Homo sapiens: one gene and its partners. The protein of the gene in region 1 purifies or fractionates together with the protein of each later gene. This does not show direct contact. Each region holds a gene or a part of one and is shown on either strand. Other genes may lie near its edges.

The links.
Region 2: the proteins of ETV6 (region 1) and LRP5 purify together in Homo sapiens (affinity purification with mass spectrometry; 4 studies listed by BioGRID and IntAct, with this or other methods). This does not show direct contact.
Region 3: the proteins of ETV6 (region 1) and LRP6 purify together in Homo sapiens (affinity purification with mass spectrometry; 5 studies listed by BioGRID and IntAct, with this or other methods). This does not show direct contact.
Region 4: the proteins of ETV6 (region 1) and NID2 purify together in Homo sapiens (affinity purification with mass spectrometry; 3 studies listed by BioGRID and IntAct, with this or other methods). This does not show direct contact.

What each region holds. Positions count from the first base shown.
Region 1 is NC_000012.12:11,862,647-11,869,673, forward strand, and holds part of ETV6 (transcription factor ETV6), read left to right. Parts: intron 1-6,777; coding exon 6,778-7,027. UniProt on the Homo sapiens protein: Transcriptional repressor; binds to the DNA sequence 5'-CCGGAAGT-3'. Plays a role in hematopoiesis and malignant transformation.
Region 2 is NC_000011.10:68,307,774-68,315,590, reverse strand, and holds the start of LRP5 (low-density lipoprotein receptor-related protein 5 isoform 1 precursor), read right to left. Parts: upstream 3,001-7,817; 5' UTR 2,877-3,000; coding exon 2,786-2,876; intron 2,143-2,785; exon of another isoform or gene 1-2,142. UniProt on the Homo sapiens protein: Acts as a coreceptor with members of the frizzled family of seven-transmembrane spanning receptors to transduce signal by Wnt proteins.
Region 3 is NC_000012.12:12,159,041-12,166,067, reverse strand, and holds part of LRP6 (low-density lipoprotein receptor-related protein 6 isoform b precursor), read left to right. Parts: intron 1-772; coding exon 773-989; intron 990-1,505; coding exon 1,506-1,795; intron 1,796-3,648; coding exon 3,649-3,875; intron 3,876-6,103; coding exon 6,104-6,288; intron 6,289-6,912; coding exon 6,913-7,027. UniProt on the Homo sapiens protein: Component of the Wnt-Fzd-LRP5-LRP6 complex that triggers beta-catenin signaling through inducing aggregation of receptor-ligand complexes into ribosome-sized signalosomes.
Region 4 is NC_000014.9:52,004,295-52,010,072, reverse strand, and holds the end of NID2 (nidogen-2 precursor), read left to right. Parts: exon of another isoform or gene 1-2,105; coding exon 2,106-2,263; exon of another isoform or gene 2,264-3,412; coding exon 3,413-3,536; exon of another isoform or gene 3,537-4,223; coding exon 4,224-4,336; exon of another isoform or gene 4,337-4,576; coding exon 4,577-4,587; 3' UTR 4,588-5,264; downstream 5,265-5,778. Other genes in the region: RTRAF (RNA transcription, translation and transport factor protein), read right to left, coding at 5,557-5,711.

The DNA of each region.
Region 1 (7,027 bases):
AAGTCCAGAGTATACTTTTTATAAAGACACCAGTCATATTGGATGTTTAAAATGACCTCATCCTAACTAATTACATCTGCAAGGACCGTCTTTCCAAATAAGATCACATCCTGAGGGTACTAGGGGTTAGGACTTCAACTTATGAATTTTGGGGGAGAGATAGTCAACCCATAATGGGCATAAGAGACCGGGAGTGGTATATGAAATATAGTTTGAATTCCACCTCAAGACCTTGAGCTTATGACTTCTGTCTAGCTCTGTGTATCATTCATACTTCCCACTAATTTTTAACAAAATGACTGGGAGAGGGAGAAAGTGAAACCCAGTGGACTGAGGCTTGAGTGAGCATTACCTCCTGGGCCTGTTGATTTGCGTCTCCCTGGTGACCTTCTTCTCTGACCAGCATCCGTGGGCTTAGGGAAAGCACGGTGGTGGAAATGTGATCCTGGTGTGTGAGATGCAAACTTGATCTTAGCCTTTGCTCTCCCTGGAAACTTATCGGTCAAAACTTTCACTAAAGGCAGTTTTTTGTCTGTTTGTTTAGGTTTACTGGTTATTTATTATTTATAGCATGGTTAAATTGGGTCAAATTTTTATGAATTGTAAGTAGAGAAACTTTTCTAATAAGAGGAAAGGATAAGAAATCAGACCTTTTTGTAAAGAAAATTACCCCACTTAAAGTCCTGGTTTATTTTAGGCCGTTTGGCAGTGAGAAGAAGGGATTATTTGTGTCTGACAGAGGTCTACAAGGAAAAAGGTTTGGGATCAGAAAACACTTCCAACCAGAATGACGGTTCCCTGCCAGTCCTTGGTCTTTCTTCCTCCCTTCCTTCTGTGCCCACATGGACTAATTATGTCTGGCTTTCCCTCCCTCTTCCTTGTATATTTCCCTTCCATATCAAGACCTTCAGAATGAGGGCAATGTGGATAATTTCCCAGTTTTCCAGCTGGGCAGCTCACCAAGAACAAACCCAGACATCAAGGCCAGACCAAAAAAATCTTCTTGTTTTAGACAGAAGACTCCTACATCTGGGGGATTTAATGCACCCACTGTCCGCTCAGTGCATTTCCTGTGTCCGGAGCTTCTCTGCCTGCCGGCTCTGGTCTCGTAAGTTTCCATGCCCTGCTGCCAACTTATAATAACAGAGGCGGCAGGCAGCAGGCTGAGAATGTCATAGCCTACTCCATACATGGGCACTGCTTTGCAGACTGAAACAAAGCTTGCAGGGTCTCATTGCAGGCCTCTCAGCCTTGACAGTGGTTGTGCCCAGACCACCAGGAGCCTGGAATTAAATACCCTCGGATCCAGTTCTCTACTGTTAATGTTATCAGCTTCATCAAGTACTTCCTCTTTGAGTGATATCTGTGGAGAAATAAATAAATCAAGCTCCTCCAAGTCCTGTTCCTGCCTGGATCCTGAGTCCAAAGTAAAATCTGAGTTGGATTATCCAAAGCACTATCACCCTCCTGCATTGTTCCCAAGGTCTGGGCAGGAACGGAGAGTGAAATCTCTCCAGGACATTACATCAGTTCCTCCTTTACCCTTGGCATGAAAGTTCTTCCTCTCCTGGTCCTCCCAGACTTCCTAAGGCCTGCCCTGAGTGCACACCCACACACTAAGCCTTGAAGCCCAGGACATCAAAGAAAGCCTGCAGGTAACCAGATTACTGACCAACGCCTGTGACCGTTTTGAAATTTATAAGATGGGAAATGGATTCAGGAAATGGGATTTTTCAATACATGGTCTTCATCATCCTTAAGTATTTTTAAGCCTTAATAAGCTTTTAAGTAAAGAGAGACATTCTGTAAATGGCATTTAGAAGAAAATATAGGAAAGTTCAAACTGGAACTGTCTTCAATAGTTGTTTACAGTGATCATATTCTGTGACAAATGAAAAGTGGACCAGGGACAAAAGATAAATACATTTCTATGGGCAGCAGAATTGACATCCATATTATCTATAAAAGGAAAGTTTGCCTTGTCTACAAAAGATTACAGATCATTTTAGTTGGTGCCCAGTAAGCATTTCTATGCATTTGGGTTAAAGTGAGGAAGTTAGTGCTTGTCTTTCCAACCTATATCCTTGCAAGGTTAATTAAGCACTTTAAAAAAAAAAAAGCTTTTTATAACAGGAAATATCAAACCTATACAAAAGTAAAGAGAATTGTGTAATGAATCACCATGTACCCATCACCAGTTTTGATGATCAACTCAAGGCCAATCATGTCTTCCTCTGTGGTCTACCTCCTCTCTCCTTCACCATCCCAGATTATTTTACAGCAAATCTCAGATATATAATTTCCCTTGTAAATAGTATCAACAGGCTGGGCGCGGTGGCTCATGCCTGTAATCCCAGCACTTTGGGAGGCTGAGGTGGGCGGATCATGAGGTCAGGAGATCGAGACCATCCTGGCTAACATGGTGAAACCCTGTCTTTACTAAAACTACAAAAAATTAGCCAGGCATGGTGGCGGGCACCTGTAGTCCCAGCTACTCAGGAGGCTGAGGCAGGAGAATGGCGTGAACCCGGGAGGTGGAGCTTGCAGTGAGCAGAGATCACGCCACTGCACTCCAGCCTGGGTGAAAGAGCGAGACTCCGTCTCAAAAAAAAAAAAAAAAAAATAGTGTCAACATAGGTCTCAAAAAAAGACTATAAAATCATAATAGAACCATCATATCACTTGAAAACTAGTAGTTCCTCGGTATCATCAAATAATCTGCTAGTGTTCACTTTTTGCCAACCATCTCATAAATGTTTTTTACAGTTTGGATCAGAATCCAAACAACATCTATACATTGCAGATGGTTAACGTATCTCTTAAGTTTTTTTCAACCTATAGGTTCCCATCTGCAACCTTCTTGTGTGTGTGTTTGAGCAGTCCCTCTCTTCAGGTTTTTTTAAAGAAGTCAGCCATAATTAGTATATTCGTATATATAATATATTATATATATTAGCGTAGGCTTATATATACTATGTAAGTATATACTTATATAGTATTAGTATATACTATATATCATATATACTATAATCATATATAGTATATATGGTGTGTGTGTATATATATACTATATATCATACTATGCATATATAGTATATTAGTATAATCTCCCCCTGTACATAGTTTCTTTTTTTCCTCTGGTTGCTTTCAAGATTTTCTCTTTATTTTTGGTTTTCAGCAGTTTGACTATGGTGTACCTGGGTGTGGTTTTTATTTTACATATCTTACTTGAGATTCTTGGACCTTCGAATTTACTGTTGTTGATAATGTTGTTACCAAATTTGAGGACAATCTAGCCATTATTTTTTAATTTATTCTACTCTGTTTTTTTCTATATTCTCCTTCTTGGACACCAATTACATGTGTGTTAGACCACGTGATATTGTTCCACAGGTCACTGAGGATTTGTTTTGTTTGGATTTCATTTTTACTGATCTGTCTTCAAATTTTCTAACCCTTTCTTCTCTCATCTCCGTTCTGCTATTAAGTCCATCTAGTCCGGTCTTTCATTTCAGATATTATACTTTTCAGTTATAGAATCTTTATTTTGCCTTTTTTTTTAATTCCATTTCCCTTTTGGCAGCCTGTATGTGTCATCATTTATTACAACCATGATTTTCTTTTAGGGCTTGAACTTATTTATAATAGCTGCTGTAAAGTTTTTCTGTTTGTTTGTGTTAACTCCAACATCTGCATTATCTCAGGTTCTGTTTCTTTTGATGGCCTTTCCTCCTTATTATGAGTCACATGTTTGTATTTCTTCTCATATCTAGAAAATTGTGACTGGATGCTGAGCACATTGAGACACTGGATTGTGTTCTATTCCACTGAAGAGTATTGACTTTTGTTCTAGGAGGCAATCAAATTACTGGCCAGTTACTTTGAATCTGTAGAGGCATGGTCTTACGTTTCATTAGGTCCAATCTGTTTCTATTTTGCCTTTTGCCCTTAGCAGATCCCCTTGTCCTAGGGTTTTTACTCCTACATTGTGGCCATTCTGGGGTAACAAACAGCCTGAAGTGTTTACAGAGCCTTTGAACTTGATGAGACTCAAACTCTGAACTCTGTCTCCACTGCAGTAGCCAGTAGCTGAGGTTTCCGCTTAGATCTTTTGATTATACAACTGTTGCTTTTCACTGAACTCCAAAGGGTCTCCCTGGCACTTGGGCTATTCGGTAATCAGACAAGAATTTGAGGAAGCTTTTACATGCCAATTTAATCACTCTCCCCTCTGTGGCTCCCACTGTATGGGATTTGTTTCTTCAATTTTCTGCCATTCTGGCAGCTACCTACTCTATCTCAAGCAACTTTCTGTTTATCTTCTAACTGCCCCTGTGCTGCACGGACTGGGGAGGAACATGCAGCATAGGGCAGTTAGGAGATCAACAGAATCAGGGGGAAAGCTGTTTAAATATGGACCTCACTCTGTGCAGTTCCCTTCTTTCAAGAGTGAAATCCTCTCCGGTTTTTGTCTGCCCTTGATACCTTCAAATAGTTTTTTCAATGTATTTAATATGGTTTCTTTCATTTCTACCCGTAAGAAGGTTAGTTTGGTACACGCCACTCTGCTATTGTTGAACTGAAATTGCCCCTTTCCTTGTTTAGATAAGTGGTGGCAGATCATAAATACTTCATCTTGCTTTTCGTATCTAACCATAGATTCTGATGCTAGTCCTTAGCAAAATATCAAGATACTCCTCATTCCTTTTTACTTTTACGTAGTACTCCATTTTTTAGAGATATATACTATAATTTATTAAATCAGTCTTCTATTGATAGCTATTCCAATGATGAGGCACTTGAATTTATGGCAGTGGGTTATACAGTAGTCACAAAATAAGCCCTTTGCCTTCAAGGAGATGATCTTTTAATATTGTGAACAATATTTTTGTTCAGTGATCATATGATAGATGAGATCTAGTAGAACTTTCAAAAAAGAAAAAAGTCCGCATTTTCTTCTTAACCCTGTGTAAAACTTAAAACCACTATGTCTGTCTCTGTTTACTGACCCTATCAAATTACGGAATTCACTTTATGTGTTCTTCATATATGTATATTATCTTAATGGACAAAGGTGATATGTTTGACTTGCTTTACTTAGAACTGTGGACAATTCTTTGACCAGAACAAGGACAGCAAGCATGCACATCCTTTTGGTGAGACTGCCCTGGGAACAGATGTGGCCAGAGAGAGTTCATTGAGTTGGGTGTGGAGCCGTGTAGAAATCCCCATTTTTATGGGCAGATTTCTGTCCTTCTGCACCTTAGCAGGGACTTCTGGAGCCAGGTGTGTGCCGGTCCATTCCCCGACCCAGCCCTCAGAGCTACTTCTCTTGCTGAGCTGTGTACACTTCTGATGTTATCCTCGCTCACATGTCACCAGCTTGCAACTTTGAGTGGGATGAGTTAGAGGTGTCCATCCATCCTGCTTCTTCCTTACTTCTGCCTGTCTCTGAGCACTCAGGAGCAAAGTGCTCCCAAAAGTTCTTTCAAGTTCAGTAAGATTGTCATTCTGTAAATTGGGGCCACTGTGCATGCTTAGAGCAGGTTTTGGTGTGACTTTGTGTCATAGTTTCTATATTGCAGTGACAGATGTTGTCATGAGTACACAGGTTCTAGAATCTGACTGGAGTCTGGTTCTATAATCTCCTAACTGGCTGTGTGACCTTGGGTAAGTTATTTAACTTCTTTACGCCTCAGTTTTATCATCTGTAAAATAGGGGTACTAGTGGTATCTCTTGGTTAGGAGTGTCATGAGTGTCATAAGGTTGGGGGTTTTTTTCTTTTTTCTTCTTTTTTTTTTTTTTTTTGAGACAAAGTTTTGCTCTGTCACCCAGGCTGGAGTGCAATGGTGTGATCTTGGCTCGCTGCAACCTCCACCTCCTGGGTTCAAGCGATTCTCATGTCTCAGCCTCCCGAGTAACTGGGATTACAGGCGGGAGCCACCGCACCCAGCCAGGAGTGCTATAAGTTTTAAACAGTGAAATCCAGCATCTAAGATATAGTTATTACTAATAATTATTACTAATATTATTAACATTATCACTAATACTAATAACTCCTAGAGTTAGAGAATATGAAAATTTTAGTTGTGAAAATGTAAGTCAATGAAAGCATCTAGAGAGAAACCTGTAAGAACCCTTCCACCTCTGAAAGCGACGTAGAAGAGTTAAATGATGGCCAAAAGATGGGGCATGGAAGTTTGGCTTCCTTGTGCCTACAGGCCACAGGTAGGTCATTAACGGAATGCTTGTAGACATCCTTAGGTTGTCTGGCAATAGAAAAATAGTTTCAATATGCACACCTTAAGGCCAGGCGCGGTGGCTCACGCCTGTAATCCCAGCACTTTGGGAGGCTGAGGCAGGCAGAGCACGAGGTCAGGAGACCCAGACCATCCTGGCTAACACGGTGAAACCCCATCTCTACTAAAAATAAAAAAAATTAGCCGAGCATGGTGGTGGGCGCCTGTAGTCCCAGCTACTCGGGAGGCTGAGGCCGGAGAATGGCATGAACCCGGGAGGCAGAGCTTGCAGTGAGCCGAGATCGTGCCACTGCACTCCAGCCTGGGCAACAGAGTGAGACTCCATCTCAAACAGAAAAAAAAAAAAAATATGCACCCTTCAAATTGTTAAGCAGTGAAAAAGACACTGCATTCTGGGGAGAAAGGTCCTTTACACATACCTACACGCTCCTCCATTTACCGCCTGTAGAGCCGCAGGGAGTTTCCTGTCCTGCCAACTCACTGGGGTCTGTGATTGTCTTTCCCTCTGCTCCACAGATAACTGTGTCCAGAGGACCCCCAGGCCATCCGTGGATAATGTGCACCATAACCCTCCCACCATTGAACTGTTGCACCGCTCCAGGTCACCTATCACGACAAATCACCGGCCTTCTCCTGACCCCGAGCAGCGGCCCCTCCGGTCCCCCCTGGACAACATGATCCGCCGCCTCTCCCCGGCTGAGAGAGCTCAGGGACCCAGGCCGCACCAGGAGAACAACCACCAGGAGTCCTACCCTCTGTCAGTGTC
Region 2 (7,817 bases), on another chromosome or scaffold:
GGTGCACGTTAACTCACTGAATTCATGGTAGGAAGGATTCTATTCCCATTTTACAGGTGAGAAAACTGAGGCACACAAAGGTAGCATCAGCTTCCTAAGCCTCCCAGCACAGGAAGCGGCCAGGCTGGAATCAGACCCTGGGCGCAGGGGCTCTGTCCACAGTGCTAACTAACTACTCCTGCCCCCGAGGGCTGCAGCGGTGAGTGAGTGAGTTTGTCAGTGGACTGGATGTCCAAGGTCATACAGGAAAAATCCAGACTATTGTAATAACAGCCTCTAGACCGGCTGGGGCCAGAAAGATCGAGGACGCTGACACACAACTGCGCTCACTGCAGCTCTGCCAGGGATGGGGCTAAAGGTCTCACACAGGGCAGTTAGGGCTCCCCATAGCCTGGGAGAGGAACGGGGTGAGATAACAGAAACTAGGTATGGTGCCCGAAGTCAAACAGCCACTGAGCATGTAAACCCAGGTGGGTCTGACCCCAAACCCCTCCACCCCCATCAGCCCTGCAACCCGTCGCTGCAAGGGAGAAAGCAACTCAGAGGCCTCACCTGCCTACATCCCCCACCCGTGTGTGTGAGTTCTACTAAATGCCTGAGCAGTGACACAGCACGGCTGAAATTAAACGGGTTCCAAAAACGACAGGAAGCACGAGGTGAATCTCCCCAGGAAAGTGCTGAACAAATGCTGGATCGGGTTCACCGGCGAATTTCTTGGAACTGAAGAGGGGAGCTAAACACACGGGGCCCTGCTTTGGAGGGGACTCTCTCAGGGTGCTCCACACAGCACTTGGTTAACCCCACTCAGCCCTTCTGGGCTCTCCCAGAGGGCCCGGCCTTGGCCTTGGGCATCTACAGGAGGAACCTCCAGGGGGAGAGGGGGTGCCTGGACAGGCCGGCCCTGGAACAAGCACTTGGGCCCCGAGGAGAGAGGACTAGGGCTTGGGAGCTGGGGAAGTTCTCAGCACTGGGACCACTAGAACAAAGCCATTTCCGTGCGTTCACAGCTTCCAATTGCAACAGGAAGCAATCAGGAAAAATAATTAGCGGCCCACTTACTGGCTTCGCTGAGGTCCGAGGCATGTATTTCACACAGTAAAACCAGGGATATAACATCAAAACCGTTCTGCAGAAAGATTCCTCCCTTTCCTTCCATTTTAGGCCTGGATCACCACATTCACTGGGGCTCCCAGGCCTTGCTGCCTAATGTTAAAATAATCAACTCTATTTTTGCCTCACACACAACTGAACTCTACAGCTATAATTCTTTCTCCTCAGGGGCTCGAACCACATGGACGACAGGCATTTGACTCCAGCAACATCACCCCAAAACGTGCACAAAACCCAAAACTGCAATGAGGTGAAAGGCAACGCGGTCGGCCTAGAAACCCCCCCTTTAAAACAAACAGTTTCCCCAAAACCCCTTTTGCCTCCTTGACCCAGGCATTTCCGGAAAAAGGAGCGGCGCTGGCCTGTACTCCCCAGATACTGTCGCTGTTTTGTCTTCACCTTGTTTTGCTAGCTCCAGACAAGGCCCCACAATGTAAACACGCTCCTGAAAGAGGCAGATTTGGGGTGAAACTGTCCATAGAATCTCTAGGCTTGGGTCAGAGGCAGGAGGACGTGAAACAAACTCCAAGCTCCTCCTGTTCCCCGCTGTCCCCCACACCTCCAAGCAGAGGCTGCAGCCTGGGGGATCTGACTACAGGGCCACCCCGCTGCACCATTCACACTGGAAATATTCAGGGAGACAGCTGTTTGCCTTAAGGAGGCCCAGACAAAGGGGCCCGAGGTCCTCCCCGCTAAACTGCCACAAACAGAACAGGAGCCGCGGCGTGCACAGGCACTTGCGGCCGTGCCACTTGGCCAGCCATACTCCAGAAAAACAAAACACGCACATCCGAAGAGAATGATTTAGGTAGCAAGAGGCTTGCTTGAAAAACCACATGGCAATCTCCAAATTAAAAGAACATGTGTAGCGTTTCACGACTGCTTAAGTTTCCTGAGTCCTCCTGACCTCAACTCCACCCCCTGGGAAACACCAAAAGTTGGAGAGAAAGTTCCCCCGCCCTACCTCTCCCCACGGGAGTGTACAACTGAGGCACAAGCCTGCCTCCCCCACTGCCCCGCGATCTGGGACCACGTCACCTCCGCGTAGCCGACCCGGGGATGGACACTATCTGGGGACCCGGCGGCCACACGGGGCATTCGGGTCGCCCGGGCACCTGGCAGGTGTCAGTCCGCTTGGAAACCCACAGCCACGCGGCTCACAGGAGCAGCGCCACCGGCCAGGCCGCCCCGCGCCCGGGCTCAGAACTTTCTCGCTGCAACTTCAGCCCGTCCTCGGAGCACGCGGGGCGGCCGCGCGGCCGCTGGAAACAGGCTTGCGAACCGGCTCCCCGGGCCAGGCCCGCCTCCGCGCCCCAAGTCCCCGCTCGGTGCCCGGCCCGGGCCACACGGGCCCAGCGCGGGCTCGGCTCGGCTCCCGGCTTCCCGCGGGCTCGGGCAGGTGAGGACCCGCCCGCGCCGCACCTGGCGGAGCGGGCGCCCTCCTCGCCAGCCCGGGACGCAGCGTCCCCGGGGAGGGCCCGGGTGGGGAGACAAAGGGCCCGCGCGTGGCGGGGACGCCGGGGACGGCAGGGGGATCCCGGGCGCGCGCCCCAACTCGCTCCCAACTCGCCAAGTCGCTTCCGAGACGGCGGCGGCGCCCGCGCACTTGGCCGCGGGGCCGCCCGGGCCATTGTCCGAGCAACCCGCGGCCCCCGGCCGGCCTGCGCCCACCTACCCGCGGCGGGGGCCGGGCAGCCGCACAGCGCCAGCAGCAGCAGCAGCAGCAGCAGCAGCGGCCACGGCGGCCCGGGCGGCGCTGCCTCCATGTTGTCCGGCGGCCGGACGGGCCCGCGCCGCGCTCACTCGGGCTCCATGGCGCGGCGGCGGCGGCTCCTCGCGCGGCTCCCGGCGCCTCCGCCTCCCCCCTCGGGCGCCGCGGACCAGGACGACGGGGAGGAGGGAGCTGGGCGCGCGGGAGCGGAAGCCGCGCCGCGTCTCCGCCCCCCGCCGCCGCCACCCGCGCCCCCCGCACCGGCCGCGCCCTCCCGCGGGCGCCCCCCGGAGCCGGCCGGCGGCCAGGCGGCCCCAGCGGCGCAGGTCCCCGCGGCCCCTCCCCGCGCTCCCCGCCCTGCCCTGGAGGTGCCTCCGGGAGGCTTGGCGCGGGGTTTCCGCCCCGCGGGGCCCGGCGGCCGATCGGGGCCCGGAGCCAGGTGTGTCACCTGTGGAGCCTCTATGAGTGGGGAAACTGAGGCACGGAGCAGGGCGGGGTTGCCCAAGGGCACACAGCGAGGCAGTTTCAGGGCGGGCAGCCTGGGGCCCCACGGGGCGGCCCCGGACACTTGTTCTCACCTGTGGAGGGCAGAGAAGGGAACAGGGAGAGAAGTGGCCGGCTGGGAGTGGAGGTGGGTTTGAGGTTTTACTGTAAACTAAATGTGTACCCTCTACCTTAGTTATGAATTATGAGACACGAAGACTGCGAAACAGACACACTCCTCTAAAAGTGCCTCTAGGCTGACAGGGAGAAAGTCCCGCCAGGCTCCCAGACGCCACCTTTGAGTCCTTCAACAAGCCCGCCAGGGCCTCTTGCCCACCGGTGTCAGCTCAGCCACTGAACCCTCCAGGAAGAAGACGTGCTGGTAGGAGAAGAATCTCACCCAGGCACAGCCTGGAAGGGGCACAGAAGGGGCTCTGGAACCAGCAAGCCCAAGTTGGAACTCCCAGTCTGCTACTTTCTAGAACGACTGTGCCCTTGGCGGGTCTAAGTAGAACCTCTCCGCGCACTCTTTCCTCCTTTGTAAAGTGGGGACAGCAATGGCCACCTTGCAGGTTCAGAGAGGGCTTGCAGTACCTCACAGAACTGAGTGCCCGTGAACGTGTGTGTTCCTCCAGATTTGTGACAGCTTTGCCAGGCTGGAGTCAGGCTGAACGCCTCTGCCCTCATGGGGTTTATATTCTAGGAAGACCAACAAAAACAAGAAGACGGAAAATTAAAACAACAAAAGCCCCATTGACAGGCCATGAAGAATGCCATGAGAAATGAAGGGCGTTGTGCTGCAGTGTTTGGGGAAACTGGCTTAGGGAAGGAAGGACACTTGAGCTGCTACCAAGGAGCAGCCGTCCGGTGGGAGGGCAGTTCAGGAAGAGCAGACATCCACGGAGGAGGCGCTGGGGCAGAGGGCAGCCTGGTCGCTGGATTCGGGGGAGGAACCACATCAGGCCATGAGCTGGAGCTGGTGGTAGAAGGTACAGGAGAGGCCAGCCAGGGCCAGCACATGTCAGACCTCAGGCGGGGAAGAGGAATCGAGAATGCACCCCACGAGCAATGGGAAGCCAGGCTAGGATTTAAGCAGCAAAAATATTTTCCCTTCTTCCACCCTGCATCCAGCTCTACCAGCACAGCCTGGGGTTCTATTTTCAAGATAGAAGAGACCCAGACTCCCAGCTCTTCTTACACTTCTACTACTGCCACCTGTCACCCACTCATGCGTCCCCACTTGCAGCCTCGACCCCCTTCCACCTGATCTCATGGCAGCCAGGGAAGCTCCAGGGCTCGTGAGGGCTGCCATCTCAGGAAAGAAGCAAAAGCCTTCGGCACCTGCAGGGCCTGCTCCAACCACACTTCTTCCTTGACCTCTCAGCTTCCTTAGCCACTCCCTTCCCACATCTCACCCTGCTCCAGCCACAGTGGTGTCTCTGTGGGTTCTCAAACACACCAGGTGCACTCCTGCCTCAGGGCCTTTGTGCTTGCTGTTCTCTGCTGGGACTCTTTTTTTTTTTTTTTTTTTTGAGACAGGGTCTCACTCTGTGGCCCAGGCTGGAGTGTAGTGGTGTGATCGTAGCTCATTGCAACCTCAAACTCCTGGGCTCAAGCAATCCTCCCACCTCAGCCTCTCAAGTAGTTAGCTTTTGTTGTTTTGTTTTGAGATGGGATCTCACTCTGTTGCCCAGGCTGGAGTGCAGTGGGGCAATCTTGGCTCACCACAACCTCTGCCTCCCAGGCTCAAGCAATTCTCCTGCCTCAGCCTCCCAAGTAGCTGGGATTACAGGCATGTGCCACCACGCCCAGCTTATTTTTGTATTTTTAGTAGAGACAGGGTTTCACCATGTTGGTCTGGCTGGTCTTGAACTCCTGGCCTCAGATGATCCACCTGCCTCGGCCTCCCAAAGTGCTGGGATGACAGGCATGAGCCTGTCTCTAGTAGTTAGGACTACAGAGAGGGGCCATCATGCCTGGTGATCCTCCCACCTTTTCTGCTCCAACTCTTTCACCCCACTTAGCCTCGTGGCTCACTCTCTTACCTCTTCAGCTCCTCAGTCAGGCCTGAGGACCCCTGTTGAAAATTGCAAACCACACCCCCCACCACCACCACCCACTATTGCCAGCACTTTCTACTCCATTTCTCTGCTTTACTTTTCTCCTTTGTACTCATCACCACCTGACTCATTACATGTTTACGTATCTTTCTTCTCTCCACTAGCATGGAAGCTCCAGGAGAGCAGAGAGTGTAGTTTTATTCCCTGATGTGTTTCCTGTGCCCGTACCAGGGCCTAGCACACAGTAGGTGCTCAGTAAATGTGTGTTGGATGAACAAATACAGTGAAAGGATCTGATCTACATTTATAAAGAAGGCACTCTGGCTGCTGAGTGGGGATGAGACTGTCAGGAGGAAAGAGGCCCCTGTGGGGGCCTGGCCAGCAGGTGGGTACAATGGTAGCAGCCAGGAGAGAGGGCCTCTTGGACTCAAGTGGATGGGGCCTGCTCAGGGCTCCAGCCACAGGAACAAAGGGAAGGGGGCCCAGGATGGCCTGTCATAGAGGACACATTACAACTGGCCCAAAGTTCAAGTCAGGTTTCTAAATTTGGGAAGGGATACAGAAAAACTAAAGACTCTACTGGACAGTCAGTTATTGAAATGATTACATAGAAAATGTACCAAGAATTAAAAAAAAAAAAAAAAAAGCATTATGAAGGGGCCACCAGAGACTCCCAGAGAGGAAAGGGACTATGGGCTGGATGCGGTGACTCACACCTATAATCCCAGCACTTTGGGAGGCCGAGGAGGGTGGATCACGAGGTCAGGAGTTCAAGACCAGCCTAGGCAACATGGTAAAACCCCCGTTTCTACTAAAAATACAAAAAATTAGCTGGGCATGGCAGCATGTGCCTGTAATCCCAGCTACTCGGGAGGCTGAGGCAGGAGAGTTGCTAGAACCCAGGAGGCAGAGGTTGCAGTGAGCCGAGATTGAGCCACTATGCTCCAGCTTGGGCGACAGAGCAAGACTCCGTCTCTAAAAAAAAGAAAAAAAAGGCCAGATGAGGTGGCTCATGCCTGTAATCCCAGCACTTTGGGAGGCCGAGGTGGGTGGATCACGAGGTCAGGAGATCGAGACCATCCTGGCTAACATGGTGAAACTCCATCTCTACTTAAAATACAAAAAATTAGCCGGGCGTGGTGGCGGGCACCTGTAGTCCCAGCTACTTGGGAGGCTGAGGCAGGAGAATGGCGTGAACCTGGGAGGCGGAGCTTGCAGTGAGCCGAGATTGCGCCACTGCACTCCATCCAGCCTGGGCGACAGAGTTAGACTCCGTCTCAAAAAAAAAAAAAAAAAAAAAAAATTAGCTGATTAGTTGGGCTTGGTGGCGGGCGCCTGTAATCCCAACTACTCGGGAGGCTGAGGCGGGAGAATCACTTGAACCCGGGAGGCAGAGGTTGCAATGAGCCGATATCACGCCACTACACTCCAGCCTGGGCGACAGAGCAAGACTCCATCTCAAAAAAGAAAAAAAAAAAGAAAGGGGCTGTGCTGTGGCCTGGGACCCAAAGCACACTACTGCAAGGTCCCAGGGTGCCTGACTCCAACCGGAGCCTTGAGAACATTCATTTGCAAAGAATGAATTAAAATTCAGCACTATTTTATTCTGCAGGATTCCAGCACCCCAAGGACAGTCATTTTTAGACCCTTCAGTAACGTAATAAGTAACCGGAGGATGTGCTGAGCTTCCACTTCCCCAGACGGTTGCCTGTCACAGCTCATCAGGCCAACAAACTTTTCTTAGGCCTCAAATTTGGAAATGTTCACTCTCAGTTCGTTCCTTAGATGCAAGTCCATCCCAATGAAGTAACAGGGGCTCAGCACCTGTCCAATCTCATTGCTTCCGGGGACAGGGGCCCATGAGGATGTCGTTTCAGCCCGGTGACACTTGGGCAAAGTGCCTTTTGGTTTCCCTCCCAGGCTGGAACGTGCTGGCTCTGTGAAGTTACGCTGGGCACAAGAGCCCCCCCCAACCCGGCAGGACTGACTGCTGTGGTCAGAGGCGCCCCTGGGGCTTTGGGAGCCACAGAATCTTCCTGAGGGCAGCGCCGGAGGAGGCCCCAGTGAGAGTGCCCACTGCCAGGCTCATTCCTCAGGCTGCCGCAGGCCTCTCCCCAAAACAGGCAATGCTTCTCAGCAACCTGCCCCAGGAGCAGGCCAGGGAAGGCCGCCATCGGCCTACAGTGCTGGGCTCTGGAGGGCTTGGTTGGTAACAGGCCATGGTTTCTATGAGCCAGCTGGGGTGTGAAGGACACAGGCTGGATTCACCTCTCTGGGCCTCAGTTTCTGCATTCAAAAAGTGGGAATCATGATATCTGCTCTATTTCTTATCTCTCAGTGCTGATGTGAACCTCCAATAAGACTTTTAAAAATACTCTTTCTACCTTACTTTTATTTTTCATTTATTTTAAGATAATGTCTAGCTGTCTCACCCAGGCTGGAGTGCAGTGGTG
Region 3 (7,027 bases), 300 kb from region 1:
GTTATATTATGTCAATAAAGGTATCCCAAGTAAGTCAACACTGAATAGTGCATGGTGAATGCACTGTGAATACAGTATGAATGCCAGAGTGAATTTAATAATGTTACTATTAGGTAGTTGGAAAGAGAAGGTACATCCTAGTTTCTTGAAACTTAGATGCAGAGAGGGTGTCATATAATCCCGATACTTTTGTGATTATAATCTCAGAGGAATGAGAGATTTATTGAGATCCCTTTTATCTGTTTTTTGTTGTTACTGACAACAACAACAAAATAAAAAGCATGCTAAGTGGAAAAAGTCCTGAAAAAGACATCAACTGTGTTTACAAGCTCTGTGACCTTACATGAATCTCAGTTTCCATAGGCAAAGCTCTCAAGATAAAATAAAAGATGTTATAAAACAAAATATATGATAAAATAATGTATATGAAGGTACATTATAATTTGAAAACAAATGTGCAAACTTAAGGTGATGATACTGTATTTTTAATTTTGCCACAATTGTTTAATAGAAGAGTTGCATAATCTAAAGTTGCCAGAATTTTTAGAAGGAAGAGTAATATGAGATTGGGGGGAAAAGTGGTCAAATAGAGGCTTATATGGAAAATTTGAAATCATTTTTATAAAATCATCATGTAATTTTGAGAAAGCATTGTAATAGGAATACCAAGATGACTCTTGGATTTTTATACAACAGGCAGTTGGATTTGTTATTTTTAGCTGAAGAATAAATGCATAATTCATCCCCTTCTCTTTTGAATTTAAACCTGAAGGTTATGAATACTGATGGCACTGGGAGACGAGTACTAGTGGAAGACAAAATTCCTCACATATTTGGATTTACTTTGTTGGGTGACTATGTTTACTGGACTGACTGGCAGAGGCGTAGCATTGAAAGAGTTCATAAACGAAGTGCAGAGAGGGAAGTGATCATAGATCAGCTGCCTGACCTCATGGGCCTAAAGGCTACAAATGTTCATCGAGTGATTGGTGAGTAACTCCAAAGCTTTCTTAGAAATGGGAACCAGGAATGAAAAAAGATGGAGATAGTCAGCAGTGTAAATTATTGATGTTTTGAGGCAATTTTGAAACCTTCTTTACTGCCCCCCCGCCTTTTTTTTTTTTTTTTTTTTTTTTTTTTTTTTTTTTACTGAGAAGGGACCTTTTAAACGTTGACTTACTACTCTAGCTACCCAGTTTGAATTGAAGGGCTGAATACACATGCACAGGCACACCTTCATCAAAAGAATTCAGTCTGATAGTATGAATAATATACCTTACTTTAAAGCTTACTGTGGTATTAAAGGAAAATACTTCACCATGCTTTTACTCCCTATTAATCTGCATATTACTTGTTTGTGATATTAGAATTGAAACTTGAGATTGGGAGCAAGACATAATCATAGGCATTTGTGAACCAAACGCTTAAGTAATTTAAAAGTGAAAATATGTTGAATGTATCAATGTGTGTGTCCTTCTGTGCCCCTTTTATAATTAATCTTTTAGGTTCCAACCCCTGTGCTGAGGAAAACGGGGGATGTAGCCATCTCTGCCTCTATAGACCTCAGGGCCTTCGCTGTGCTTGCCCTATTGGCTTTGAACTCATCAGTGACATGAAGACCTGCATTGTCCCAGAGGCTTTCCTTTTGTTTTCACGGAGAGCAGATATCAGACGAATTTCTCTGGAAACAAACAATAATAATGTGGCTATTCCACTCACTGGTGTCAAAGAAGCTTCTGCTTTGGATTTTGATGTGACAGACAACCGAATTTATTGGACTGATATATCACTCAAGGTTAGCAAAAGAATTGGAATATTAAAGCTAGGGACTAAAAGGGAGAACTTCTAGAATTTCTGAATCTTCATGCTGTGACCCACCTCCCTCATTGTTTGACAGGCAGAGTTCAACAAAAACCCTCAAGTTTTTTTTTTTTTTTTTAAACGGTGTCTTGCTCTGTCACCCAGGCTGGAGTGCAGTGGTGCAGTCTCGGCTCACTGCAACCCCTGCCTCCCAGGTTCAAGCGATTCTCCTGCTTCAGCCTCCCGAGCAGCTAGGACTACAGGTGCGTGCCACGACGCCCAGCTAATTTTTGTATTTTTAGTAGTGACGGGGTTTCACCATGTTGGCCAGGCCGCTCGAACTCTTGACCTCGTGATCCGCCCGCTTCGTCCTCCCAAAGTGCTGGGATTACAGGCGTGAGCCACCGCGCCCAGCCAAAACCCTTAAGTTTTTAAGTGAAGGGAAAGGCCCATTCAGTATTTTATTAGATGCTTTTTAATACAGATACTTTGCCAGAGTGTTTTAAATCTGCAAGCCATAGTCTTCCTCTACTTTCTTCCATTTGAAAATGATGAATGACATTTTCTGCAATTAGCTGAGTAAGGAAATGTGTGCTTCACGTAAAATGGCTGTTGATTTACTTTAAAAAAAAATTCGTGATTTACTTTAAACAAAATTTTAGGGCCTGACTGAGGCGGAAAAGGCCAACAATGAGTTATTCTTTATTTTCTTCTTCCTAGAATAGTTACTGAAAAGAATACCAGGATAGCCAGAGAGGAAGCTCCCAACCTATAAATCTGAAGAATAATCTTTTCTTCTTCCAGATTGTTTTGGGCTTGTTTCAGATAACTCATGTAAACTTTTTTGTAATATGCGAAAACATGGGGTGTTGGAGTCAGAGTTGGATTCTAATGGTGTTCAGTTAAATTTATTAAGTGAATAAATGAAATAAATAAATTTTGGTTTGCATTGGGTGATGTTCTAAATTTCCTCATCTTGAAAATGGGGGGTGGCTGGGTGCGGTGACTCAGGCCTGTAAATCCCAGCACTTTGGGAGGCTGAGGCACATGGATCACCTGAGGTCACGAGTTTGAGAACAGCCTGGCCAACATGACAAAACCCCGTCTCTACTAAAAATACAAAAATTAGCTGGTCATGGTGGCGCATACCTGTAATCCCAGCTACTCGGGAAACTGAGGCACGAGAATCACTTGAACCTGGGAGGCAGAAGTTGCAGTGAGCCGAGATCATGCCACTGCACTCCAGCCTGGGTGACAGAGTGAGACTCTGTCTCAAAAACATAAAATAGGGGTGATGCCATACTTGCAGGACTGTTGTATTAAGTGACAAAATCTACGGACAAAACGTACTTAGGATAATACTTGATAAGATGTATCTATTATTAGTTTGAATTATGATTTTTAAAAGTGTTATGGGACTCAGTGCTATAATGGTAGTATAATGGTTACATTCATTTATATGGTAGGCATGATGACTTGCCATAATCTTAAGCACCTTTAGAAAATTGACCACTAATTAAGATCTGTAGCATTGTGGTCACAGCTTTTCCACTTGATTACTGATAAATTTTAAAAGTAAAGTCATTCTGCTGTTAGTAGAATAAATTTTTGGTGCATTAGAGTTTTAAAATTTCTCCCCTGAATTGGCAGTAAAACTTGAAGTTGCATTTATTAGAGATTGACATCAAATTTTTCTGTGCTTGCAAGTTATGTGAATTTTAATAGGAAATAGTATGCCTCTTGGCACTTCTGGATCCTCTTGCCCCTGACAAAAACCAAACCAAACCTTCTTTCTGGATAGGGTTTAGACTTATGCCATATGACTTAGTTGTTAATGTTCTTTTGCAGACCATCAGCAGAGCCTTTATGAATGGCAGTGCACTGGAACATGTGGTAGAATTCGGCTTAGATTATCCAGAAGGCATGGCAGTAGACTGGCTTGGGAAGAACTTGTACTGGGCAGACACAGGAACGAATCGAATTGAGGTGTCAAAGTTGGATGGGCAGCACCGACAAGTTTTGGTGTGGAAAGACCTAGATAGTCCCAGAGCTCTCGCGTTGGACCCTGCCGAAGGGTAAACAGCTTTACATGTGCATTCTTTGCAACTGCAGTGTACATTTCGGGGAACATGGCATAGTTACAGATGATATTCTTAATGTTTTAAATAATACGTATTAGGAATCTGAGAACTAAATGATAGATGAACTTTTAAAAACACTATTGATATTTTGCTGATTTGAATGAATAATTATTAGCTAATTTTACTCTTGTCGTAATTAACTTTAGGTGAAGAAAGAGGGGAATGGGTTAATAAATGTTACTGATGAGTATACTGATATGTTAAGTATATATACCAAGAGGTATTATCCATCTGTAGTTGCTTGCACTCCTTCCCAGTTATACTAGATTCCAAGCCTATTGAAGTAAACCCACCGAAACAATGTTGTGAGCTAAGAAAAAACTACATTTAAAAAGCTTTATTTTGGAGTATTTATTAATTCAAAATGGATAGTTTGGTTTGATCATTATTATAAACTGGCAGTAGCTTTGTTATTACAAGATAGAATAAACTGTTCACAACATGATGTTTTTCAAGGGCGAGTGTTCCTTTTTACAAGAGTCAGCAAATTTTTTAAAGCCGGCAGCTAAGAAATCTGAAATCTAAAGAAAAATTCCACTTATAAAAGAAGTCAACAGGCCGGGCGTGGTGGCTCACGCTTGTAATCCCAGCAACTTTGGGAGGCCGAGGCGTGGGCAGATCACAAGGTCAGGAGTTCGAGACCAGCCTGGCCAACATGGTGAAACCCCGTAACTACTAAAGATAAAAAAAAATTAGCCAGGCATGGTGGCATGTGTCTGTAGTCCCAGCTACTCTGGAGGCTAAAGCAGGAAAATTGTTTGAATCTGGGAGGTGGAGGTTGCAGTGAGCCGAGATCGTGCCACTGCACTCCACCCTGGGCAACAGAGCAAGACTCCATCTTGGAAAAAAAAAAAGAAGTAAACAGTGTGAACATATAAATATGTTTACTGTATTTGCTACTTAAAATAATTTCCCTGAAGTGACATTGATTCCATGATTAGCTAGTAATTCATCTAGTCAGCACTGACATATTGTGGTGATCTTTGCTCTAAACATTAGCTGCCAGACAGATAAATTTAATAGTTGGGACTAATTGGTTGCTGCTGGCAAGTATGAAATTTCTCTCACAGTTGTTTCTCTTTGGCTCTTGTGGTGTGCACATGCCTGTCAAATGACAAGTGCAAATGCATATAAAGGCAGGACACCTTCAGTTTTCAGAAAAGCATGTTCATACATTGCTACCAAGTCAGCTATCAGCTGACAGGCTGATGAGTGAATATATGTCCTCAGGTATTTCGTGAGAGCTGGCATGTGATGTGCTTTTTTAGTTCCAGTATTCAAGAGTCTCAAAAACTAGCACCTCACTAGTTTACTTGAAAGGGCATTTGGCCAAGGATTAGGTTCTAGTTCTAGCTCTGTCATCTAACTGGCTTGAAGACATTAGATAAGTTGTTCACATTTCTTGTAGTGTTTTGGGCTCTTCATCTATAAAAAGCCTATACTGTAGGATTACTGTAAGATTAAAGTGCAAAACTCAAAAATGGAAAATAACAGCAAAGTAATTATTCTAAAATTTCACAGAGATTGTTGTAGCGTAGTGTAGTGTTCATTGCCCAGTGGACACATCAAGGGGTGAGTCGTTGTTCTTACCATATAGTATGCTCCCTTGGACCATATGACCAAATACATTTTCAAGCTTTGCTTTTGACTTCAGTTAAAGGCTTAGTATTTATAATTACCTTTCATGTACTTCTGCAACTTATTTTGAGGAAGAGTTGATTACACAAGTCAAAAAGTAAGTTCAGCATATTAAAAACTCAAATTAGTTAATATTCAAAAGTATATAAAAATATTTTACTCAGAAGTGAACCAGATTCTGAGACCAGAGCTTTAAACCTTTGCTGTTTTCTTGAATGTTAATTTTACAAATGCCAGTACTGCAATAAACTGTTGGTTTATTTCCAATTCCTAGGTTTGGATGGAACAAATGTATTGGAAAGACTAAGGAAAGCTGACTCACTTCCTTTTTGGGATATGGAAAAAAATATTTAGTTTAGGGTGCCAAAATAATTGAAAGCATTGTAGCCGTGATTTTGTTTAACCCATTTCCTTGATTTGCTGTATGTTTTCTTTAAATTTATTTAGTTACTTTGCATGAATATGACTCTTTCCCCCAGATAATAAAAAATTGAAATGTTAAATATTTATTATTTTGAATTTAGATTTATGTATTGGACTGAATGGGGTGGAAAACCTAAGATAGACAGAGCTGCAATGGATGGAAGTGAACGTACTACCTTAGTTCCAAATGTGGGGCGGGCAAACGGCCTAACTATTGATTATGCTAAAAGGAGGCTTTATTGGACAGACCTGGACACCAACTTAATAGAATCTTCAAATATGCTTGGTAAGCTTTACTACTTTTTACTCAAACAGTATATTCTTTCCATGCAAATATCAGTGGCTGCTATTTATCATTGGTTAGATACTTTTAATACAACTTCATATGAATGTGTCCATTCTTCTTCTGTTCTGGAATTGTATCCTGTTTGTTATTAATAGTGATCCAGGTACTTGGATTCATCTTTTTATTATGTGAAAGTTTCATTATTATTGGACTTGTAATGAAATTTATAACTCCCTAGATACTCCTGAAATGACTTTTGTACCAGTAAAATATATATATTTCCATCTTTTCCTTCTATAGTTCAAGAAGAAAAAGTGAACTGTAGACCCTTATATAGAGAAAATAAAACCACATTTAAAGTAGACCATTTGCAAGAATTTTAGGAAACTGAGTGATTTGTAGCAGGAATATAAGTTTGAAGCATGGGGTCAGAAGATAGATTGATTTCAGAGAATTGGTCTCGTTTTAGAATTGCTTTTAAATGAATTTTTCTATTTTAAATTGCTTACAATGTAATGTTTTATATGTTAGGGCTTTTTTTTTTCTTTTTGCCAGCAAGACACTTGTATTCTCACATATTTCATCACTCTGCTTCTCCCCTGTCTACTGCCTTTCTGAAAATAGGGCTCAACCGTGAAGTTATAGCAGATGACTTGCCTCATCCTTTTGGCTTAACTCAGTACCAAGATTATATCTACTGGACGGACTGGAGCCGACGCAGCATTGAGCGTGCCAACAA
Region 4 (5,778 bases), on another chromosome or scaffold:
CCCTCTTAAAAACTCTTTGCATAGGCTTGCCTTTCTGACATTTGGACATTTGGAAGGTCCTTTTTTCTTTTTTTTTTCTTTTTTTTGAGACAAGGTCTTGCTTTGTTGCCGAGGCTGGGGTGCAGTGGCACAGTCTCGGCTGACTACAACCTCCATCTCCCGGGTTCAAGCAATTCTCCTGCCTCAGCCTCCCAAGTAGCTGGGACTACAGGCATGTGCCACCATGCCCAGCTAATTTTTGTATTTTTAGTCGAGACAGGGTTTCGCCATTTTGGTCTCCAACTCCTGACCCTGGGTGATCCACCTGCCTTGGCCTCCCAAAGTGCTGGGATTATAGGTATGAGCCACTGCGCCCGGCCCCTTATTCCTTCTTGGTGCTTGACCTGAAAACTGGGGAGAGCTGCCATCTTGTAGGCAATGAAACTTTGGCCATGTCTCTGGAGTCTGGGGAAAAAGCATACTTTTAAGCTGAAATCCACATCACAGCCATGAGTTTAAATATGAAAGTAGAACTTTCTTATCCAGACAGCAAATATAAATGCTAAAGGACTTGAATTTTTAATAAAAAGAAAACCCACCTTGAACCAGGTTGCAATATAACACATGTAATTACATCTCCTTCAACTGCGTAACAGAATGGTTGTCAAGCCTTCCTGCATATTTCTCATTTGCTTTCTATAGATTTCACCTTTACAACTTTCTTCCTCTGGCAATCCCCAAATAATTTACACCAAATATCTGTGTGAGCTTGTTTCAGACTTATTGTTGTTGATGATATTAAATCATTTTGGGGAGGAGACTGATCAGAAGCGATGAAGCAATGATATGCATGCTGTACCCTCTGGCCACCTCCACCTTAGCGCAAAGTGGAAACTGCTTTCTAGCTTTTGCTCTCAGCTTCTCTCTGCTTCATCTGTTGGGCATAAGGGATGAAATTCGCAACAGGGGAAACCTATGGTTTCTTCCTCTCCTCTCACTGAGGTTCTCTGTAGCCCAACTGATTTATTCAAAGCTTCTATAGCTTTTATAAAATAGTATTTTATAAAAAGTGCTTTCAACATTATTTCTGCTCTAACGATAAACCTGTTTGTTTCCTTATAACCTATTTCCACTTAATAGGACCATATTTCCTCGTTAGTATCTGTTATGAATATATTTCATTTTTAACGTGGCATTTAAAAGGTAAAGTGCTTAACTTAAAATGTTTCCATCCCTGGGTGCCAGGTACCCCTTCAAGTACCAAATTGTATTTTTGGCAGAAGAAAGAACAGTTTCCTTCTCAAATCCCTGGTCCACATCTCTTCAAGTTCCATAGTTTGTATCGAAGCCATTCCTAACAGCTGTATTTGTTTCTATTCTAAAACCCAAGATCCAATTCAAGACTTCAACAAACGGAGGGTTTTGGGGCAGTTGAGTCAAGGGGTATCTTGGAGGCAGGGATTCTGATAGTAACTTAGTAATGACTTCTCCCACATAGTGACAATAATCAGAAAACCTTGTGATACAGGTAAAAGTGGAATATGGCTGTGTATTAGTTACCTACTGCTGTGTAAGAAATTGCCCAAACCCTCAGCAGTGTAAGATAACATTTAGTCTCACAGTTTCTGTGAGTCAGGAATCCAAGTGTGTCTTCACCGAGCTCCCTCAGGCATGGAGTCTCTCACAAGGCTGCAATCAGGTAATGGCCAAACTGCAGTGATCACAAGGCTCAGCTCGGGGAAGACACAGCCCAAGCATGCTCACATGGGCTACAGGCAAGACTAATGTCTCTGGCCAACAGCCCTCAAGGACATCAGTTCCTTGGCACATGTTCCCCTTTACAGGGTAGCTTGCAACATGGCATCCAGCTTCCCTCAAAGGGAGCAAGAGAGAGCCCCTAAGGCAGAAACCAGTTTTTTGAGACCGAATATCGGCAGTGATAGCCTATCACTTCTGCTATACTCTATGCACTAGAAGAAGCAAGACACTACTAATGCAGCCCAAACTCAAGGGGATTGCTTAAGGCTATAATACATGAGGAGATGGAGATCACTGGGGGCTGCTTAGATGCTGCCTACCACAGGCTACATGGCTATTCTTTTACAATCTTGATTTTTAACTTACAGCAACTTGTACTGGACAGACTGGAATAGAGAAGCTCCTAAAATTGAAACGTCATCTTTAGATGGAGAAAACAGAAGAATTCTGATCAATACAGACATTGGATTGCCCAATGGCTTAACCTTTGACCCTTTCTCTAAACTGCTCTGCTGGGCAGATGCAGGTAATACTACTGATGGAATGCAAATAGATAACCTCTCATCACAGTGAATGTGAGCACTAACAGATTTTACTACAAAATGAAATCCCATCACTTAGATCTCCTTTCTTTGGTCTGTAAACTTTTAAGTACTAGTAAATTTAAGTACTAGTAAATGAGTCTTAAAATGAACTTTCTGGGGTTTGGGTGGAGGGAAGGATATATCAAGCAGTAAGTTTGTACTGCTTGCCTGACCATGAGTGCCTGGCATATTTTTAACAGTTAAAAGAATTAGCCATTGTTGAATTGACAAACTTAAGTGAAGTTATTCTTATGCGGGGAGAGGGTCACTATAACTTACCTATAAACATCTGTTATAATGCTAAGGACATTCTTTGGAAAGCATTGTAGCAGGGTAGCTTCCTTCAGTAATAACATGGGTATTAGCAACCTACATTTGTTTGCTTTTATCAGCACAACTGAAAAAATGCTGTGTGTCTAGTTCTATACTAAAGAATATGAAAAAGACTGTTCTTGAATTTGTAATCTAATAAAAGGGCCTAATGTACATAGGTCACTTTTATAACCCAGTTGTTTAAAACAAGTTACATTTCTTAAAAGGATTTGAAATTTAAATCGGCTCCATGAGAAATGTGAAACTTGGAAATTCTTGAATGGTTTAGCTATTGTAAAAATTTTTAAGACTGATTCCTTTACATTGAAATATGAGTTATGTTACCATTTTAGTCACTTTTTTCCTCCTACCTAGAAAATATTTTAAAAATACTAAGGATTTTGGTTAAAAGGTTGCCTCAGTAATTATAGACATAGCTTACAAAGGGCAAGTATTTACCCAGATGTTATAATTTATAAGCTAAGGCTTGAAATCACACAAATTATAAAAATAATTATGTTTAATGCCCTACTTTGGCAGAAACTTACCAGATTTCAGTAAATGCAATCCTGTCTTCCAAAAAAGGATTGAAAGTTTGAATCTCTACTAAAAACTGGAGACTAGTAATAGGACAGGTAATTTTACAGTTGCTAATCTATGACTGTAATGGAAGTAAAATATCCTATTTCCCCATTCTATCACTGTGTCACTATCACTATGTCACTATCATTTTTGGCAAAGCAGCTGAAGGACCTCATTTTCCCCCTTTGTTTTAAAAGGAACCAAAAAACTGGAGTGTACACTACCTGATGGAACTGGACGGCGTGTCATTCAAAACAACCTCAAGTACCCCTTCAGCATCGTAAGCTATGCAGATCACTTCTACCACACAGACTGGAGGAGGTGAGCCCCACAAATTCTGGACAAGCCTGAAAAGGCCAACTGTTCCAGAGGACACACCACTTGTTTTACCAAAAGTCAGTACCTGACTTGACTCATTAAGCCCTCTGAGGCTTTTGTTTCATCACCTCCTCATTGGCAGATAAGATCCTTCAAGGATGTTTTTCATCCTTTCATGTTTTTGAAATCATCCTTTTACTTCACCCAGAAATCGAATGGTATTGCTCACATATAGCTTAAAAAGTAGCAAAGCTATTGGATAATGTCTCAAAAGGGAGCATATTAATCTAAATATGTTCTTTAGAGAATAAGACTACCCTTGATACCATGAGCTATATTACAGGGCTTAAGTTGGCTTTTGACACTGTGGACATATTGTCTGAGGGACCGAAAAATACTATTTAGACTAGTTCTCAAATGAGGAACTGTGGAACATTAAAGTCTAAGCCCTTTACACCATGCCCTACAACTCTGATTTGATAGCTCATCATGTGATTCTAACATGCAGCTAGAGATGAGCAATGGATTTAGAGCAATGGTCTTCAAACTTCAGTATGGCTTTAGCACCAGCCCTGGGACAGAGAAGGCTGCCAGAAATTTTCCTCTATTGCAACTGATTTTCTGTGGCTGACTGACTTCTTTATCTAGTAAATGACTGTCCCTGAATTCACTCTTCCTTTCTGTTACCAGGGATGGTGTTGTATCAGTAAATAAACATAGTGGCCAGTTTACTGATGAGTATCTCCCAGAACAACGATCTCACCTCTACGGGATAACTGCAGTCTACCCCTACTGCCCAACAGGTAAAAAGTATGCTTTAGGATGCTCCTTTAAATTAGCAGGGTAGAGAAGGGATATATATGGTATTTGATTACCCCTGCTGCCTGTGACACTGCCACCATTGCCTTCTTCCTGCCCTGAGGGCCAGTCTTTACTACCTTAAATCTACCTAGTTTATACACAAAATGCAAAGACTTGCTGTTGCAACTTGGTTACAATATACTCACCCACCACCCTGTCCCACCCCTGCTCTTCTCTCACAGGAAGAAAGTAAGTACAGTAATGTAAAGGAAGACTTGGAGTTTACAATCAGAACCTGGACCCTAAAGAACAGTGACTGCAAAGGCAAAGAAAGTAAAAAAGGAATTGGCCATTAGACGTTCCTGAGCATCCAAGATGAACATTTTGTAGTGCAAAAAGACTTTTGTGAAAAGCTGATACCTCAATCTTTACTACTGTATTTTTAAAAATGAAGGTTGTTATTGCAAGTTTAAAAAGGTAACAGAATTTTAACTGTTGCTTATTAAAGCAACTTCTTGTAAACATTTATCATTAATATTTAAAAGATCAAATTCATTCAACTAAGAATTAGAGTTTAAGACTCTAAACCTGATTTTTGCCATGGATTCCTTCTGGCCAAGAAATTAAAGCACATGTGATCAATATAACAATATAATCCTAAACCTTGACAGTTGGAGAAGCCAATGCAGAACTGATGGGAAAGGACCAATTATTTATAGTTTCCCAACAAAAGTTCTAAGATTTTTTACCTCTGCATCAGTGCATTTCTATTTATATCAAAAGGTGCTAAAATGATTCAATTTGCATTTTCTGATCCTGTAGTGCCTCTATAGAAGTACCCACAGAAAGTAAAGTATCACATTTATAAATACCAAAGATGTAACAATTTTAAAATTTTCTAGATTACTCCAATAAAGTGTTTTAAGTTTTCCTATGACTTAAGGATCTATATTGTCTCTAGGACAAAGCTGGGGGTTGGCATATATGCCTTAACCACAAAGGAGAAAGGTGATTTATGCAAACATACAGTACATAATAAAAATTCTACTTTCCTAAACTTTATTAAAGAAAAAAGCAATAAGCAATGGTGGTAAATCTCTAGAACATACCCAATTTTCTGGGCTTCCTCCCCCGAGAATGTGACATTTTGATTTCCAAACATGCCAGAAGTGTATGGTTCCCAACTGTACTAAGTAGGTGAGAAGCTGAAGTCCTCAAGTGTTCATCTTCCAACTTTTCCCAGTCTGTGGTCTGTCTTTGGATCAGCAATAATTGCCTGAACAGCTACTATGGCTTCGTTGATTTTTGTCTGTAGCTCTCTGAGCTCCTCTATGTGCAGCAATCGCAGAATTTGAGCAGCTTCATTAAGAACTGCATCTGTTTTATGAGAAAAGAACACTGCTTCAATACATAATTTTTACATTTAAGGCCATTTATTTCCTCC